2 separate regions of the Homo sapiens genome follow, and region 2 is linked to region 1. Evidence: fine-mapped expression QTL. Tissue or cell type: monocytes after Pam3CSK4. Region 1 holds a variant in brackets; the other region holds the start of a gene. All regions are shown on one strand. Distances are from middle to middle.

Region 1 (8,262 bases):
CCATTGTGATTTCTTGAGAGAAATGATGTGGTGAAATCAGAATTTCAGAAATATTAATCTATCAGCATGAAAGAAGATGGATTAAAATGAAGAAAGCAACTCGTGGCTGGGAGTCAAGAGGGGAGATTATTACTGTAATTTGGACATGGTTGAAGGTGGGGGCAGTGGGAATGGAGACAGGTAAATAATTCCTCAGATATCACAAAAGAATGTGGAAGAGATTTTGCGATGAATGAGCTATAAATGTGGGGGACAGAATGGGAGTGTTGGGAACATTTAAACATTGAGACTCCCAGCAATTAGGATAAAAGTGGTACCATGGAGAGAAATGTGGGGGATGGAGAAGACGGCAATACACAGCCTCTGTGTAGGATAACTGATTGCAATCTCCACAAGTTTTTCGAGGCAAAAACAAAAACAAACTCCAAGTCAAAAATCTCCCCACCCCTGATCTTCCTCCCAAACTCTGGGCTGTATTTTTCTTTCGCTAACAGCCAGTAAGAAATATTTCTTTATGGCATAGGAGACTAAAAAGAAGGTAATGCCAAGCTGGTGCCCCGCCCAGTGCTGGGCACAGAGGAGATCACATGAGTTCCACTGGCCAGCCTCCCCACAAGAAACCAACCCAGTTGCTTATTCAGAAGGGGCTCCAGTATCCTGATCACCCAAACTCATTTCCCAGGCCCAGACCTCTGGGAAATCCCTGCTCCAGCCCTGCAGAGATTTATAGGAAAGTCCCAGGACGCCCATCTGCTTGCTTCCTCACATTAATTTCAGGGCTAGGATTTTGTTTTCTAAAGGAATTCAACTATGATGCCAACAAAAATCTATAGGAATTGAAGAGTTCCGTATTTTAAGTCACATTTTTAAAATGTTTGCTTCTTTGTATATTGAGACCCAGTAAGACCCTAGTAAGCCCAGTTACTCCATCACCTCCAACAATATTAATCAAGTAGAAGACACGCGGATTTTAAAAGCTGTGTGATCCTTGAAAAATCTTCAGACTGTCAGGGGTCCTGGGTGCCTCCAACTGTGAAAGGAGGGTTGGACAAGGCGATTCCTTAGATCTCTCTCGGGTATCTATTTCTCTAATTCCAAATTCCAACAGGCATCCAATGATTGCTACCCACGTCCAAGCTTTAGACTCATAGCCCGAAAAGGGCGAAGCGCAGCGTGGTAGAGATCGCAAAGGAGACAGGAAGAGAAGCAAGCATGCACTTTTAGTAAGACGGCAAAGGAGGCTGGGAGGTACGGTGCTGGGTGCGGACTGCTTAAAAAACTTACTAGACCACAAATTCCAGATACTTAGGTGGGCCCGAGAACGCCCTAAAATCCCCTTCCCAAGTGAGGGCTGATGTTATTTCAAATAAAAAGAAAACTTAACTTCCAGATCTGTAGAGCTCCAAGGTGAGCTCGCTGTGCAAAAGCTACTTCTGTAAGTGCGCCAAGGGGCCGCAGGTACTTAGGCTGCACTTGAGGAAGTGTCCAGAGTTGGCGGAAACAACCCATCCACTCGGGCTCCAGGCGCTCGCTGGGTTGCAGCAACTAAACTGAGACAGACAGACACACAGATCCGAGGCCCCAGGCCAGGACTCAAGGAGCGCTGACCGAGACTTGCCCGGCTCTCGGGCCCCAGGCGGGAGGGAGGCGAGGCTGAGGTGGGGGGCGCACGGGCTGGGTGTGCACTCGCCGGTCCCCTCCGACCCGACCCGGGGAGCACGGGGCCCCGACCCGGGGACGACTGAGGTGGATTGTCCCTAGAGTTTAAGACTGTCCCTAGAGTCGAGGGTGGAGGGATGAGCGCCGGCGCCAGCACAGAGCAAGACTCCCAGCAAGGAAGAGAACCAGAGAAGGAGGCGCAGCCGTCCGCACGGACCAGGCGCGCGCTGGCTCCCCGAGCCCGGAGCGGCGCAGCCCGCGGCGCCCCGGACACACCCACTGGGTAGCCCGCGCCAGCCCGCCCCGCCGGCCAGAGAGCGGGAGCCGGAGCCTGGGCAGCGGAAGCCGGGTCGGGGCCGCGCGGGCGGCGCGCAGGGGACGCGGGGCGCGCGGCTCTGCTCACCTGGCGGTCCGCGTCCCGGAGCGACCGGCGGCCGCCTCGCCTCGCCTCGCCCCCGCGTGGTTCCCGGCGCCGGGCAGCCCCGAGCGCCGCCGCATGGACGGCCGCCACCGCCGCCCAGCCGCCCCGCGCCCGCCCTGCACGGGCTCCCGCTGTGCCCCGATTCCGCGTCGGGCTGCGCGGGCGGCCAGCGGTTCAGGCGCGCGCGGAGAGCTCTGGCTCAGAGTTTGCGATCCGAGAGCGGGATCCGCGCTCCCTCGGTCCTTCCTCCCTCCCCTCTTGCGGCCTCCCGCTGTCATCTGGAGCCGCTCCTGCCGCCCCCTGGCGGCGACCGCGGGAAGGGCCGGCCCCCATCCGCACCCCTGACCCCGGAGGTCAACAACGGGATGGTCCCTGGGTCCCAGGGGAAGAGACATCACCCAGTAGGAGGGAGTACGGTCTAGACAGAGGCCACGAGGGCGGGAGGGGGCGAGAGTGGAGAGTGGCCCAGCTGGCCAGGGTCGTCTAAGTGAGAGGAAAAGGGAGAGGGCGGTTGAGACCAGGCCCTGAATTCCGCGTTCATCTTATCCTGAGGTCTGTGGGGACCTGTTGAAGGACTGGGGCAGGGGACGGACGCGGGCATCCTTCCATTTGGAACAGCCATTCCGGCAGCATCAGGATGGGGCGGAGGCAAAGCGGGGAGTGGGCGAGGCAAGTGGTGCTGTAAACCTGTGCGAGAAGGGGGCGGTGACTCTAAGGGCAGGAAGGAGCCCTGGTCACACACACACTCCCACGCAAGGTAGGACGCGCTGGGCTCCTTCTGAGGCCAAGGGGAAAGGACAAGAGCCCTCCAAATTCCAACGGGGGTTAGACAGCATGGGGAGGAGACACACACACCCTGACGGCCAGAGCCGTTCGGGATTCTTTCTTGTCTTATTCAGAGTAATATTTTGTTGGGGAAAAAAAAGCCTGCTGCAAAAAAATAATAATTCTTCTCATTAGTAATGATAAAAATCAAACTTTGATCCCTTCATTTTACGAATTGGGAAATTATTGCCCCCAAAAGGGCATGACCAAAGTGACGCGTTTAGTTAATGGAGGGAAAATTGCTAGGGCCCCGTTTCTTGAGTCCTAATTCAGAGCCAAATTCTTTACATTCGAGCCAAGGTGTTCAGAGCTGGGAAGGCAGGAAATAGAGTGACTGTGAGGAACTGTCTCTTCTTTCCCCAGAGCAGGGAGGGGGTGACAAATATTTGAAGAGGCTGTCCAGA[T/C]ACAGGCGTTTCCCTAAATTTCAGTCAGCCTGTTTGTTTATCGCTGCCTCTAAAGCTTGCCTGCAGGGGTTGTTTTGAAAGTGCAGGTATACCGAGAGGACAATGAAGGAGGTGGCAGAATGCAAGCTCCCTGCCCCAGAGCCAGGCAGCACCAGGGCTGGGTGCAGAGCGCTTCGTGGGAGCAGAAGGGAGCTCCCAGGGAAGATTGTCCTCCAGAAAAAAAAAAAAATTAACAAAAGGGAAAGAGGCTACTCAAGAGATTAGGCCAAAGAAAGAAACACCATTTTGAGCACCGACTACTGGCCCGGAGCCTGGCAGAGCCAGTTCTGATTGATTCAAGAGCTGGTTCCAATGGGATGAAATAATTCCACACTTGATCAAACAGATTTTGATGGGAGGCACCTGGTGTAAATGGGATTAGATTAATTCTGAGTGTCACGAGTCTCATGGGTCCAAATTAAGTCGATCTAACAGCTCTAGTAAATACTGGCCAGTTTAAACCATTTAGAACTGATTTAAAAAAAAAAACCTGCGCAACTTTAGAATGTACTTAATGTCACTGAATTATACACTTAAAAATGGTTAAAATGGAAATTTTTATGTTATGTACATTTTACCATAATTTTAAAAAAGCAAAACTAATAAGATTTGTTCAAACAAGATTGATTTATTCATTCATTCGAGACAGGTATTCAGTGCCGAGTGTGGCCTTGGTGCTAGGATTCAAAGAGGAAAGGAAGAAAACTTTCCATTCTAAAAGAAACTCCACGTGAGGCGAAGAAGATGAAATATAGTCAGAAAACCATACCAGTAGGTGGTAGGTAAATGCAGAAGTATTTAAGAGCTCATACAGGAGTACCTGCCTCAGGACAGGGAATCTGAGATGCTCTGCAGAGCTGGATCTTAAAGAACGGAGTGAGTTCATCACATAATGTCTGGGGCGAACAGGGCTCAGGAGCAAAGGATGTGGTTTTGTTTGTTATTTTTTAATTTTGAAATAATTTTAGACAAGTTTCACAAATAGTACAAAGAATCCCCTTATATCCCCCACCCTCTTCCTCTAATGTTAACATCCGACATAACCAAAGTATGATTATTAGTGAGCAAACTTGATTCGACAGACCTAGGCTGGCTCCTTAGAAGTGATTCCAGTCCATTTTCAACCTTGGTCAAATTGTTTTGACCATATTTTGCTTATATGTCACAAGAAAGTCTCTTTCTTTAAAGTCAAGATAATACTTGTTTTATTTGTTTATTTATTTTGAGAGAGTGTCTTGCTCTGTCACCCAGGCTGGGGTGCAGTGGCATGATTGCAGCTCACTGCAGGCTCCACCTCCTGGGCTCAAGCAATCCTCTCACTGCGGCCTCCCAGGTAGCTGAGACTACAGGCGTGCGCCACCACATTTGACTAATTTTTTTTTCATTTTTTATTTTTAGTAGAAAGGAGGTATTGCTGTGTTGCCCAGGCTGGTCTCAAACTCCTGAGCTCAAGTGATCCTCCGTTCTTGGCCTCCCAAAGTGCTGAGATTACAGGCGTGAGCCACAGAGACCAGCCTATACTCATTTTAAACAAAGAGATATTTACATTATGTGTAAGCATCAGTGAATATTAAGTATGCTAAGACAGCAAGTTTTAATCTTTCAGTCCTGTTATATTTCTGCTTTTATCCAAATGTGTCTGTCACGTATGAATCAGAAGAGCAGAATGTGGTCCTTGCATATAAAATAGCTTACTGACCCTCACCGAAAGAGAGAGCCAAGAATATGTGCTTCAGATCACAGTCAAAGGCTAGCCTGTGCTTACCTAGGCTGGGGGCCTGCCTGGCATGTCAGTGTCAGCTATACACAGCATCTTGGAGGGTGGGTCACCCCTTTGCATATCTGATGTGGTGAGCTACTCACTACCTCATAAAATAGCCACATTGTTCTTAGAGGCTCTTTGTTAGAAATTCCCTTTTAATTTTGACTTGAAACCTTTTGCCCTGTAATTATTATCCACTGGCCCTAGAGGCAGCTCCTAAAGGGACAGACAAGAAACATAACTCTTCTGTCATGTGTCAGTTCTGTCTATGTAAGACAGCTCTAGCTTACACCTGTTGTCCTATTATAATTATTAATTAATTATTAATAGTACCCCCCTTCATTCTCTTGTCCTAGTTAAGTTGATAAATGATGCATACGACATCCTATAGAAGACTGTCACCACCCCACCTCACTGATCAGCCCTCTGCCTACAGCCACACCCACAGAACATTCAGCCATTTCTCCTGTGGTTCCCAGCCTGCAGCACAGCGTCTGCACGTGGTGAGGGCTCCCAAATCTCTGAGGAATGAATGGCTCACTGCTGAGAGCAACCTTCTGGGAGTTCAGGGCATGTGGAACTGGAATAAGAGCAACGTGTGAACAGATTACAGGAAGGCAATGCAGGACAGCTGGACCCTTTGGGGGGAAACTTATGGGGAACACAGTTTTCTTACTTATAAGCACTGAGATTGCCTGAGAGGGGAGAGATGATGCAGAGTGTCCCAAATGTATTTGACGTGGAATCCTTTTACCAGCGAAACATCTCTTGGGCCTAGAGTTCTGAAAATTGCACTTTGAAAAACACTGCTCTCAGCTCTTACAAACCTCGTGTTTTCATCCTAACTGTGCTTCAGAGAATTGTGTCCCAGCAGGAAAGGAAACCCCCGTATAATTCCCTACGTTGCTAGCATTTGGAAGTGGGATGAAAATGGACCTACATTCAAACCCCTAATTTCAAGCTCTGAAGGAGGTACCAGGATCCATCACGATGCTTGTAAAATTGTTCCTTTCATTTTCCTGGTTGTAAACTTATGCAGACTGTAAAGTCAAGGCAAGCCTGTGCCCAGCAAATAATAAGAAAATAAGGGAGGCATGGTAAACAAAACAAAACACTTTGAGAGTTGGTCAACTTGCTGTTATTTTGAGCTGTTTCTAAAAATCTCAGGGTAGATTCCCTCCCCTGCTTGCCTCCTTAACCCAGTCCTTTTTCTTCCTCCTCCAGGAACTCTGGAATGCTGACCTACAGTCTGAGTTCCTGTGCCCTTGCCTGGGGCTGACTCTCTACTTGACCTGTAACCCACAACTGGGCAAGAGAAAATTCTGCAGCCACAGCTCTGAGGACATGAGCAAAATGGTTTCCAGACGGAATGTCAAGGATTCCCATGAAGTGTCAGGGAGTCTTCAGGCCACACTTCAGGTTATCTCCTTCTCTTTCCCTTTTCTGCTTCACACTTGCTCTCATCCTCTTTCTCACCCCACATCTGGTCAGAGGAGATAGGAAGGTTCTTGTTACCTGGTACAAGACAACTTTTGGAATCCCAGATATTCAGATTATTTCCCCTTTTCCTCTTTGCAAATGATAATACTCACAGCCAAGAGGCATCACCCGGATCCGAGGCTGCTTCTCCTTAGGACATGCAGACAGAAGGAGAAGGCGGGGCTGGCAGCCTCCAGTCCACAGCCTCCCTTTCTTCTTCCGGCGATGATTAACTAGGCCTAGACAATGGAGATCTACGGCATACGCCCAGGGCCTCCTCTTCTCAAGCATGGCTGATCAGTCACTTTCCCGTCTATCCTTCATTTATTGAAGCCAACTATGAACGACTAAAGGAAGGATGAGAAAAGTCACCCAAAGTCAAAGGGGACAGCGTGGGAGACTGTTCTAGACAGAAGGAAACACCTTTGCAAAGACCCTGAGGAAGGCAGGGGACTCTCCAGGAGCAGAAGGGCTGTGTGGCTTCAGAGTCCACAAAAGAGAGCAGATACAGGACACTGGCTAGAGCAGGCCCTGGAGCCCGCTGCTGTCCTGGAGGCCTTGGGGAGGCCCAGTGTTCCCAGGGTGGAAGAAGTAGGGGACAGCTTGACGTAGTGGCTGTTGATCAGCTGATATGGAAGTATGTCATTTTATTAACAATTGAGAAAGGAGTGCTGTGCAATTCCATTCAATGCCAGTGATGCTTATGGCCGTTTTTATGAGTTCTGTCATTTTCAAATGAGCAAGAGGAAGCCTCTAAGGGGGTTTAAGCAGGGACTGACGTAATCAGATCTGTGTTTTTCCAAAGGGAGAGGGAGAAAAAGAACATTTCTTATTTTTCAAAAAAGGTAATGCAAAAGCATCATTCCACAATTCTCTTGTAATGAAAAAAATAAATGCAAACTTAAGCAAATCCATCATTCTGAAAGAATATCCTGCGTCTGCCTTTTCCTTCCTGGGAGACTCTCATAATGAGGTCCTGTCCTTCACCCATTGCTCACACTGCCGCCTGGTACCCCTTGTGACCAGGACTGCAAATCTCCAAGACAACTGGAGCAGGGTGGGAGAGCTCAGCCAGGAAGCAGCTTCTCTGTTTGAGGCTAATCAGCTTACATTGTGCTTGAAATTGCTGTCACCTTGGCCTTGTTGGCAATTTTCCCTCTTCAGCAAACCGGCTTTCTTGTTGAATGAATTAATTTTTATAAAATCTCAGAGATAGGGCATATCCAATGAACACTGGCCAGATATGGCTTATGTATAAAACCAGGGCACTACAAACGACAAAGTCACACGGTCTCCAAGTTCATGGCTTTGCCTTGCCTCACTCACCTTCATCCTGCCTCTCTTCAGCACACAGACCACCTACTATGTGCTAGTTGTAGCGGCTCACCAGACAGTGCTGCCAGAGTGTTCCTGGGTCCCACGTTCCTTTTTTTTTTTTTTCTCTTTTAGTGTTTCCTTTCACCACTCTGTGTGTGATGGTGGACACTTTTGCTTATGAGCAGCAGTTTGGTGTCATAAAAGAAAGCAGTCAGTCCCCCAAACACTACACCGCCATTGCTCTCTGGCCATCCCATCGTAGAAGTCACCAACCTCCAAACTGCAGTCGCCTCCCCTATGGAATGGCAAGAACCTAATTATACCTGTTGGGAGAGAATGGGACGGGCTCACACCAA
Region 2 (8,000 bases), 220 kb after region 1:
TGAAAAACCAATTAGGTTTTTTTTCCTAAAGAGTTAATTCATACTGAATGGGTCATTACTTATGTATAAAACTTTATTCATCTCTCAGGTTCACAAAATTCAATACATCCATACTATTTCCTCATTAGCGAATATCTAGTAATACTTTACCACTTAAATAAGTTTGCCTGGCCAGCCGTCCTCAAATCTGTTTACTAACTGCCTACTCTAACTCAAGAAAACCTTAGTGAAAGTACTTAATTTTGATTCATGGTTTCGGGAAAACTTTTAAGATATTGTTACCAAAAATGTCAAGGAAATTGACAATGCAAGCATAAAAACCCTAGTTGAGGCTTCACATCTATAATTCTGTACCTAAAACAGTGATCGGCACACAATACTTGCTTTATAAATAAGTATTGAACTGAATCAAATAAGGCAAAGACAGATGTTTTCCACACTGTGGAACTGCAGTTAGGCTGACGTCATGTCCAGCAATTGGCCAAGACAAGAGTGTAGAATGTAGGAAAGAGAAAAGATATGTCAGATTAGATGGGTCCAAGAAGTAGGTCCAGAAATAAAAAGAGAGAGAAAATTAACCAATATTTTAAATTGCCATATGTTCCCACAGTAATAACATGAACAACCTAGAAAGGCCTATACTGATCAGCCCTCTCATATAAACTCCTAAGAGGTAGAGGCAGTTTTGTATATGTGGATTCAGAAGTGTTTAACATGAGCACATTACAGAAAGCTAATGGCTGTCAGCAACAAACCAAGATTCAAATGTGAAGGAACGTTTTCCTTGATTTGAAAAATATATTTCAGAAATATAACCAGATCATGTGAGGCAGTATTTGTCAAAGGATGACCCACAAACCATATACCTCAGAATCACCTGTGACATTATTAAAATGCACATTTCCAAATCCCGCTCAAGACCTACAAAATCAGAATGGGGAAGATGGAGGGGGAGCACTAAGAATGTGCATTTTTAACAAGATCCCAAGATCCCAAGTGATAGACACTAGAGTTTAAAGCCTTTAATATAAAATCTATAATTATATGTGACAGTAACAGGGAAAGATTGTTTCTTCTCTACTCCTGACTTTACATTCTTTCCTGATTTCCTTAATATTTGTGTTCCCATACTCTTACTCTAATTAGCGACTTCCAAATACTGTTCTAATACAGTATTTGAAACATTCTTTTTCCATTCTCTAGTGTATAGCCCACCCTCAAAGTAAAATAATAACAGCTTTTTTCTGTATTGGAAATAATCTACTATGCTACATATATATAACCAATGATTTAAAAAAATACCAAACCAATTTGGTCCCAATGAACAATTTCATTTTAAATTCAAGTTTATTTGGATCTAGTAATTCAACATTATTAAACACTTAATATTATTCAAAGATGATGAACCACATCTGATCTCTATTCACTGACAATACCTTGCCTACTTGAGTAGTTTCTTTCAAGGTCATGTTGTAAAAGTCTACCGGGGAATGACGATGTGTCTTTATTTAGCTTGAATTCAACCTGAAAAACATTATTAAAGAAAAAAATATTTGGAGACAAATTTAACACCAAGCAGTGAAGATAAATTAAAAAAACATATAATAACTGATACACATGGTACAATGTGGATGAACCTTGAAAACATCATGCCAAGTGAAAGAAAACTGACACAAAATACCACATTGGCAAATCCATAGAGATGGAAAGCATATTTGTGGCTTCCAGGCATTTAAGGGAAGCAGGGAATGGGAAGTAACTGCTTAATGGGTACAGGGATTCCATTTGGAATGATGAAAAAATTCTGGAACTAGATAGAGGTGATGGCTGCACCTCTATCATTGTATTTTACCACCCACAAAATCAGGATCAATTTTATGAGGTCAGATACAAGATATTCCAAGCTGAGACACTTCCAATCCCTCCACGCTCTCACCACAAATACAATGATTAAAAGAATCATTTGCTTCAAAAAAAAACACACAATATAAATAAAATGCTGTTGAAAAAATCACTGTTTTGATCATTATAATCCTTTTAAATGTCCTATTATAATATAATAAAATTGTATATTTAAGCCTTCTAAGAAAGGTTTTCACTTGATCTAAAACTGATCTAAAATAATTATCTGGTGGGAGGACTGAGAAAAACAAAACCAGAACAACTTCTTATGATTAGCCACAAAAAACCCCAAATATGTATCTTGAATTAATTAAGATACTTCTAATGTATCCATACTATAAACATTATGTTGGCATTTGCATTATATCCTTAGGAATTATATGACCTAAAGGTATTTTCTCAGAATAGATGTCCACACAAGAGAAAGTGAATGGTTTGGAAAAAATATTTAGATGAGGCACACAGCTCTAGAAACATTATAATGGTGGAAAAGGATTTGTCCAGAGAAATCAATTAGGAAAGCTCTGGAGAGAATCCATTATGCTCAATTATAATAAATAATATTTTCAATTAATCTAACTGCTGTTTATTTGAGATGATCAAATTGTCTATTTTCTGAGTGTTTACCATTTTCATATTCATATATAATGTAATCAACAGCTGCCTCCTTGACTAACGATGTCCTTCCATTTACCTTCCTCATGCCTTTTCTTACCCTTCTTCATGCTGTTATGTGTGAACTCTGCCCTTCACTTTAGAGTTCTTCCAGTGACGCCTATTTAATAACTTTTTAGGACACACCTGAATTGTGATGGTTAGAGGTTTCCAACTTGGTCAAAGGAGGAAAAATCATGTTGTGTCTTGAGACATAGTGTGTAGAAAGTAGGTAAGTATAAATGCTGAGGTGAGACAGAAAGGAAAGAAAAACATGTTTATCTCAAAATCTCAAAAATTAAATCAAAAGCCAGAAATTCTAGAAATGCTAGAGACATTATGGGGAAATAATCTTGGGGAAAAAAATCTCATATTCATATCGTAACTTCTAAATAACGTTAAGTCTAACATGTGTCCACTGCTAACCTATTTTTTTCTTCCCTGATTTTAAATGGGATGTGTGGATATGCCCTCCCAATTACCATTTTATCTAAGGTGTCATTAGTAGTAAGACATACCATTATTTTACCCTCTATTAAGAAAGAAAAAAAACCTCCCCAATTAAACTATGACATGCCATCAATTTTAAGAAGGCTCCTGATTTCAGAAATGTGTAAATATCACTGGGTGCGGTGGCTGTTGCCTGTAATCCCAGCACTTTGGGAGGCCAAAGCAAGCGGATTGCTTCAGCTCAGGAGCTCGAGAACAGCCTGGGCAACATGGTGAAACCTGTCTCTACAAAAAATACAAAAATATTAGCCGGGCGTGGTGGCATGCACCTGTGGTCCCAGCTATTCAGGAGGCTGAGGTGGGAGGATCGCTTGAGCCTGGGAGGCAGAGGTTGCAGTGAGCCAAAATTGTGCCACTGCACCCCAGCGCCCCAGCCTGGGTGATACAGCTAGACCCTGTCTCAAGAAAAAAAAAAGTGTAAATGTCAAAAAAAAAAAACAAAAAAACCCTTACCCTTTTGTAATCAATAAAATCACATTAAGTTTTTTAAAGAGGGCTATTTTAGCTTTATGTAGGCAGAAAGTAAGAACTAGCTTTAAACTGGAAATCAAAGCAAATCTACTTAAATTTTTCAGTTTAGAATCTATCTACACTTTAAGTCATGCTGCTATTTGTGTAGAATTTAAAACAATCTTCAATTTAAATGCCAACCTTCTTAAATCTTACTTTGTTTTTTTCAGGAAGCGATGATGTTTGAATAACCAGATGAAGCCCGCAGTTCACCTGAAATGTAAAAATTAAACCATAAAATTTGCTCTTAATACACAAACACATATTTCCAAAAAAAAAAAAGGTACAAACAGAAATACAACAAAAAAATAGAACACAATGCTCTATTTCTGTTTCTGGTAAATGATCTTGTTCTGAGGATTTGCTGAAAACAATAAAATCACATCTAAGAATTAAAAGGTTTCACTGATTTATTTTCCAAAATGTCGGCAGCAATTTAACCCTCTAGTTAGTACCTCAGGCTTTCGACATTTGCCATTCAGGTCTAAATAAACATCTCAATGAGACAGGTGAAGGAGGTGGGAGTCCCTAATGATAAATTCTCTTCACAGTTAAAAGGAAAAGAAAAGAAAAAGGAATTGACTGGCCAAAGGAATTTAAATAAACCCAAGCCTTTCACAGCAGACCAGCTCCACCTTCTGGGGAGCCCAGATCCTGGACAAGACTTTGAGTACCCATCATACAATATTAAATTGTGCCTTGGTCCAGCCCACGAACCTCAAACCCTGGTCAGACAATAGCTTGAGTAGACCCAGCGGTGCCGGTCCTAATAATACAGCCCATCTCCTAGGACAAAGACGCCAGTCAGAAAGAGTACCAGTGGGAAGAAAGAGAAAGTAGAAGGCCCAACTTACGTTGTTCGCAGCCCGGCCAGAAACAGAGCGATATTTCCCGGGAATCATGATAGGAGACAGTCCAGGTTCTCTGTTAGATCTGCCTTCCAGGTGACGCTACAGCGGAGATTCAAAGAGACCCGAAAGAGGTCATCTCCCAGGCAACCTGCTCAGGGTTACCATGGAAACGACCATTTCCGGTCTGGACCTCTCCCGAATCGATAGAGCCACACAGTCGTTGCAGCTTCTAGTTGTATTCGTGAGAGCCCAGTGCGTCACCACTTCCTCGTTCTATTTTCCCAGCCTCATAAAAACAGAGCGGGAGTATTGGGAGGAGGATAAGCTGGGGAAGAGGCTGGCCACACTGGTTGCTATAACCACCACCACTTCCGGTCCGTTCCTCTTTACGGCCCACCTCAGCGCTGCCCGCGCGAAATTTGTATCCCTCTGCTTGTGTCCACTGGCTCCTGGGGAGCAGCGCAGGGAGGAGGAGGAGGAAGATATCAAAGAGCCCTCCCATTGGGGGCCCCAGATCGCCACTTCCGGTGACCAGAGGTAGGGAAGGAAACAATCCCGACCCGGAGTGGACAGGTGAGGAGGGGAGGACTTGCCTCGCCGAGGCCGCTGCGAGGAGCGTGCCCAAGGGCGAAGGTCCAGGGAACCCGGCTCCCGCGCACCGAAGACGGCCGCCATGCCGGCCCGTTGTGTGGCCGCCCACTGCGGCAACACCACCAAGTCTGGGAAGTCGCTGTTCCGCTTTCCCAAGGACCGGGCCGTGCGGCTGCTCTGGGACCGCTTCGTGCGGGGTTGCCGCGCCGACTGGTACGGAGGCAATGACCGCTCGGTCATCTGCTCTGACCACTTTGCCCCAGCCTGTTTTGACGTCTCTTCGGTTATCCAGAAGAACCTGCGCTTCTCCCAGCGCCTGAGGCTGGTGGCAGGCGCCGTGCCCACCCTGCACCGGGTGCCCGCCCCGGCACCTAAGAGGGGAGAGGAGGGAGACCAAGCAGGCCGCCTGGACACGCGAGGAGAGCTCCAGGCAGCCAGGCATTCTGAGGCTGCCCCAGGTCCAGTCTCCTGTACACGCCCCCGAGCTGGGAAGCAGGCTGCAGCTTCACAGGTAAAGAGAGACCACCGAAGGTTGTGTAAGGACCCCTGGACTCTGGCTGGGCTCCTCCACTTAGTGTCACCTTGGGAAAGGCACCTCATCTCGAAAGTTCCTGTTTTCTAATCTGCAAAGTTAGGGGTGTGCTTTAGAGGTGATCTCCAAGGTCCCACTTATCATTAACACTTTGGAATTAAGTGACCCAGTTAATTCCTTCTAACTGCTCCTCCCCCAAAACTCACACACACACACACACACACACACACACACACACACACACACACACACACAGAGTCTTGTCCTGCAGAGTAGTGAGTTGCTTTCACTCGCTGCTCCAGAGTTTTTAAATAGAAAGGGTTTAATTTGAGCAAATCTCCAGGATTGGAGTGCTTGAAACTGTGTTGCATAACATTACATAAGCTTGAGGAAAGTCCCTTATTTGTGTCACAAATGATGGGGCGAAGGAGATGTGGAGCTACAGATGAAGATGATGGAGCTTGCTAATAAATCCCTTCCCACCCCAAGCTTCCTTTATGACTGATAACTAGCTCCAGCTGCCTTTAAGTTCAGTATCCCTAGTGAGCTGACTTTCCCCATCTTGCTCTCTTCTGCCTACTTTTCTGTTCCTTCTAAACATTGTTTGCACTCATTTTGCATCTGGTTACTACTACCTTCTTCCCCACGTACCATTTTAAAGAAAACTTTCCAGCCTTCCTTGTGATAAACTTCAGCCTTGCCACCATTACACAGATTAAATTATAGCAAGAGGTTAGTAATTTCCTCAGGGGTCTGTAATCCTTACTTAGGTCCGGTTGCCAGACCAACACTCTTTCTGCAGTACTAACCTGCTTCCTACATTGGGGTGGGTATTTAAGACCCTTTAATGGCATCTTGCAATTATTAAGATAAAGAGCAAAATTATTAACCCAATTTACATGGCCCTGCATGTTTTTTCCCCCTGCATACCACACTAGCCCTAACCAAGGCCACTGTCCCTGTTGCTCACTGTGTACCATCATGCTGACCTTTCAGTTCTTGGACATACTATACTATATTACTTCCTACCAACAAGACTTTGCTCAGTTGTTGCATGTATTATAATATCCTGGAACTATGCCCCTCCCACTCCCATCATTGCCAATTAAGTCTTTTTCCCTTAAAAATCAGCTAAACATCTTTCCCCTTGATCCCTTAGTTATGTACTCTCATTCTTCGTGTACTCCATGTGATTCAATAGCACAGATACTTCAGTAGCACTTACCATAATTGCCATGAAATAATTGTGTAGTTTGCTTAATATTTGTTTCTCATATTAGAATGTAAGCTCCATGAGAGCTAGGATCATGTCTGATTTCTTTGCCATTGTATTGCAGTGCCTAAAACAATATTTTACAAATTTAAGTAATTCAATAAATATTTATGGAATGATTACATGACTATAAGAACAAATTTTTGCATTATAATTGAATTTTCAATTATCTGCCAGTTTCCCTCCTCACCAAGCTGTATACCTGTCAAGATAGCTGTCCTTTCCTTGAACCATCTGTCCACCATCACCACCTATACAAACTTTGCCCAAACATATACATCCACATACATATATATGTGTGTAGCAAGAGAGATAAATACTAAACATGTGCCACACACATCCCCCTACACCATTTTTCTTCTTCATAATTACACAACCTAATCAAAAATTGGGAGAAGAAAAGCCAAGCTAGTCAAACAACCAAAGTCTTTATAACCCATAAAAACTAACCGTTGGGAAACAGATCCAGCATACATAATAAATCTGTTTTCCATTTAGTAAGTATAACCAGCCAACATTTATAACAATCCATAGTACATTAATATACTTGCTGAATTACTAGAAAACTGTGAGTTCTAAAATAGTCACTTTAAAAGTATATAAGGTTAAAAAGATTTTGAGTTGATAGCAATAAATGTTTAGCCTGGTCTGGATAAAGAACCCTAACCACATCGCTAAAAAATTGGCTTGTCTATCTGACTTCTTCCCCCACCCAATGTTTTTCTTCCCAATCCCAGGACTAACTGTCTAAAAATCAGATTTCCAGTGATTCTGCAACATTTATTGAAGAGCTATTGTAGACACTGTTCTGGGTGCTTGGTGCTATATATGGATCAATATAAATATGAGTGTTACATATCTTTAGGGGGCTTCCAAAAAGATAAGACACCACTTCCAAGGAAAGAAAGGGGCTTATTTATTGTTTTCCCTTAACTGTTAATTTTGCATTCTTTTTTAAAAAACCCAACTGAATTTTTTAAATTGTTGACTTGAACTATAGCAAATACACAGAAAAGTGAACAAATCTTAAGTGGACAAGTCATTAAATTATCATAAACTGAACATGTGTAACCACAACCCAAGTCAAAGAAACAGAACATTGCTAGCACCCCAGGAGTCCCTATATCACCCCATATCCAGCCCCTCCCCTCTCCTCAAAGGTAACCAAGTTTGCTTT

Direction of the effects. Alleles are on the strand shown, and positions count from the first base shown. SD is a standard deviation of normalised expression in the study named.
With allele T in place of C in region 1, the expression in monocytes after Pam3CSK4 of the gene that starts at base 4,940 in region 2 is lower (large effect, 2.1 SD a copy in Quach 2016).

The links. PIP is the estimated chance that this variant, and not a neighbour inherited with it, causes the effect.
Region 2: THAP10 starts here. The variant in region 1 is fine-mapped to the expression of THAP10 in monocytes after Pam3CSK4 (Quach 2016, PIP 0.95).

Annotation. Positions count from the first base shown.
Region 1 is chr15:71,109,499-71,117,760 of GRCh38, reverse strand. THSD4 (thrombospondin type 1 domain containing 4) reads right to left here and starts at 2,290. Exons shown (of 18, transcript NM_024817.3): 1 at 2,063-2,290. CT62 (cancer/testis associated 62) reads left to right here and starts at 2,257. Exons shown (of 4, transcript NR_168260.1): 1 at 2,257-2,837; 2 at 3,998-4,130; 3 at 5,467-5,613; 4 at 6,335-7,517. RefSeq lists silencers at 1,897-1,986, 2,137-2,276, 2,307-2,366, 2,213-2,390, 2,427-2,476. The variant T/C (reference allele first, on the strand shown) is at 3,310.
Region 2 is chr15:70,889,373-70,897,372 of GRCh38, reverse strand. It overlaps THAP10 (THAP domain containing 10), which reads left to right and starts at 4,940. Exons shown (of 3, transcript NM_020147.4): 1 at 4,940-5,529. The coding sequence starts at 5,101. It overlaps LRRC49 (leucine rich repeat containing 49), which reads right to left and starts at 4,547. Exons shown (of 16, transcript NM_017691.5): 1 at 4,431-4,547; 2 at 3,733-3,789; 3 at 1,437-1,524. The coding sequence starts at 4,478. RefSeq lists an enhancer at 4,587-5,285.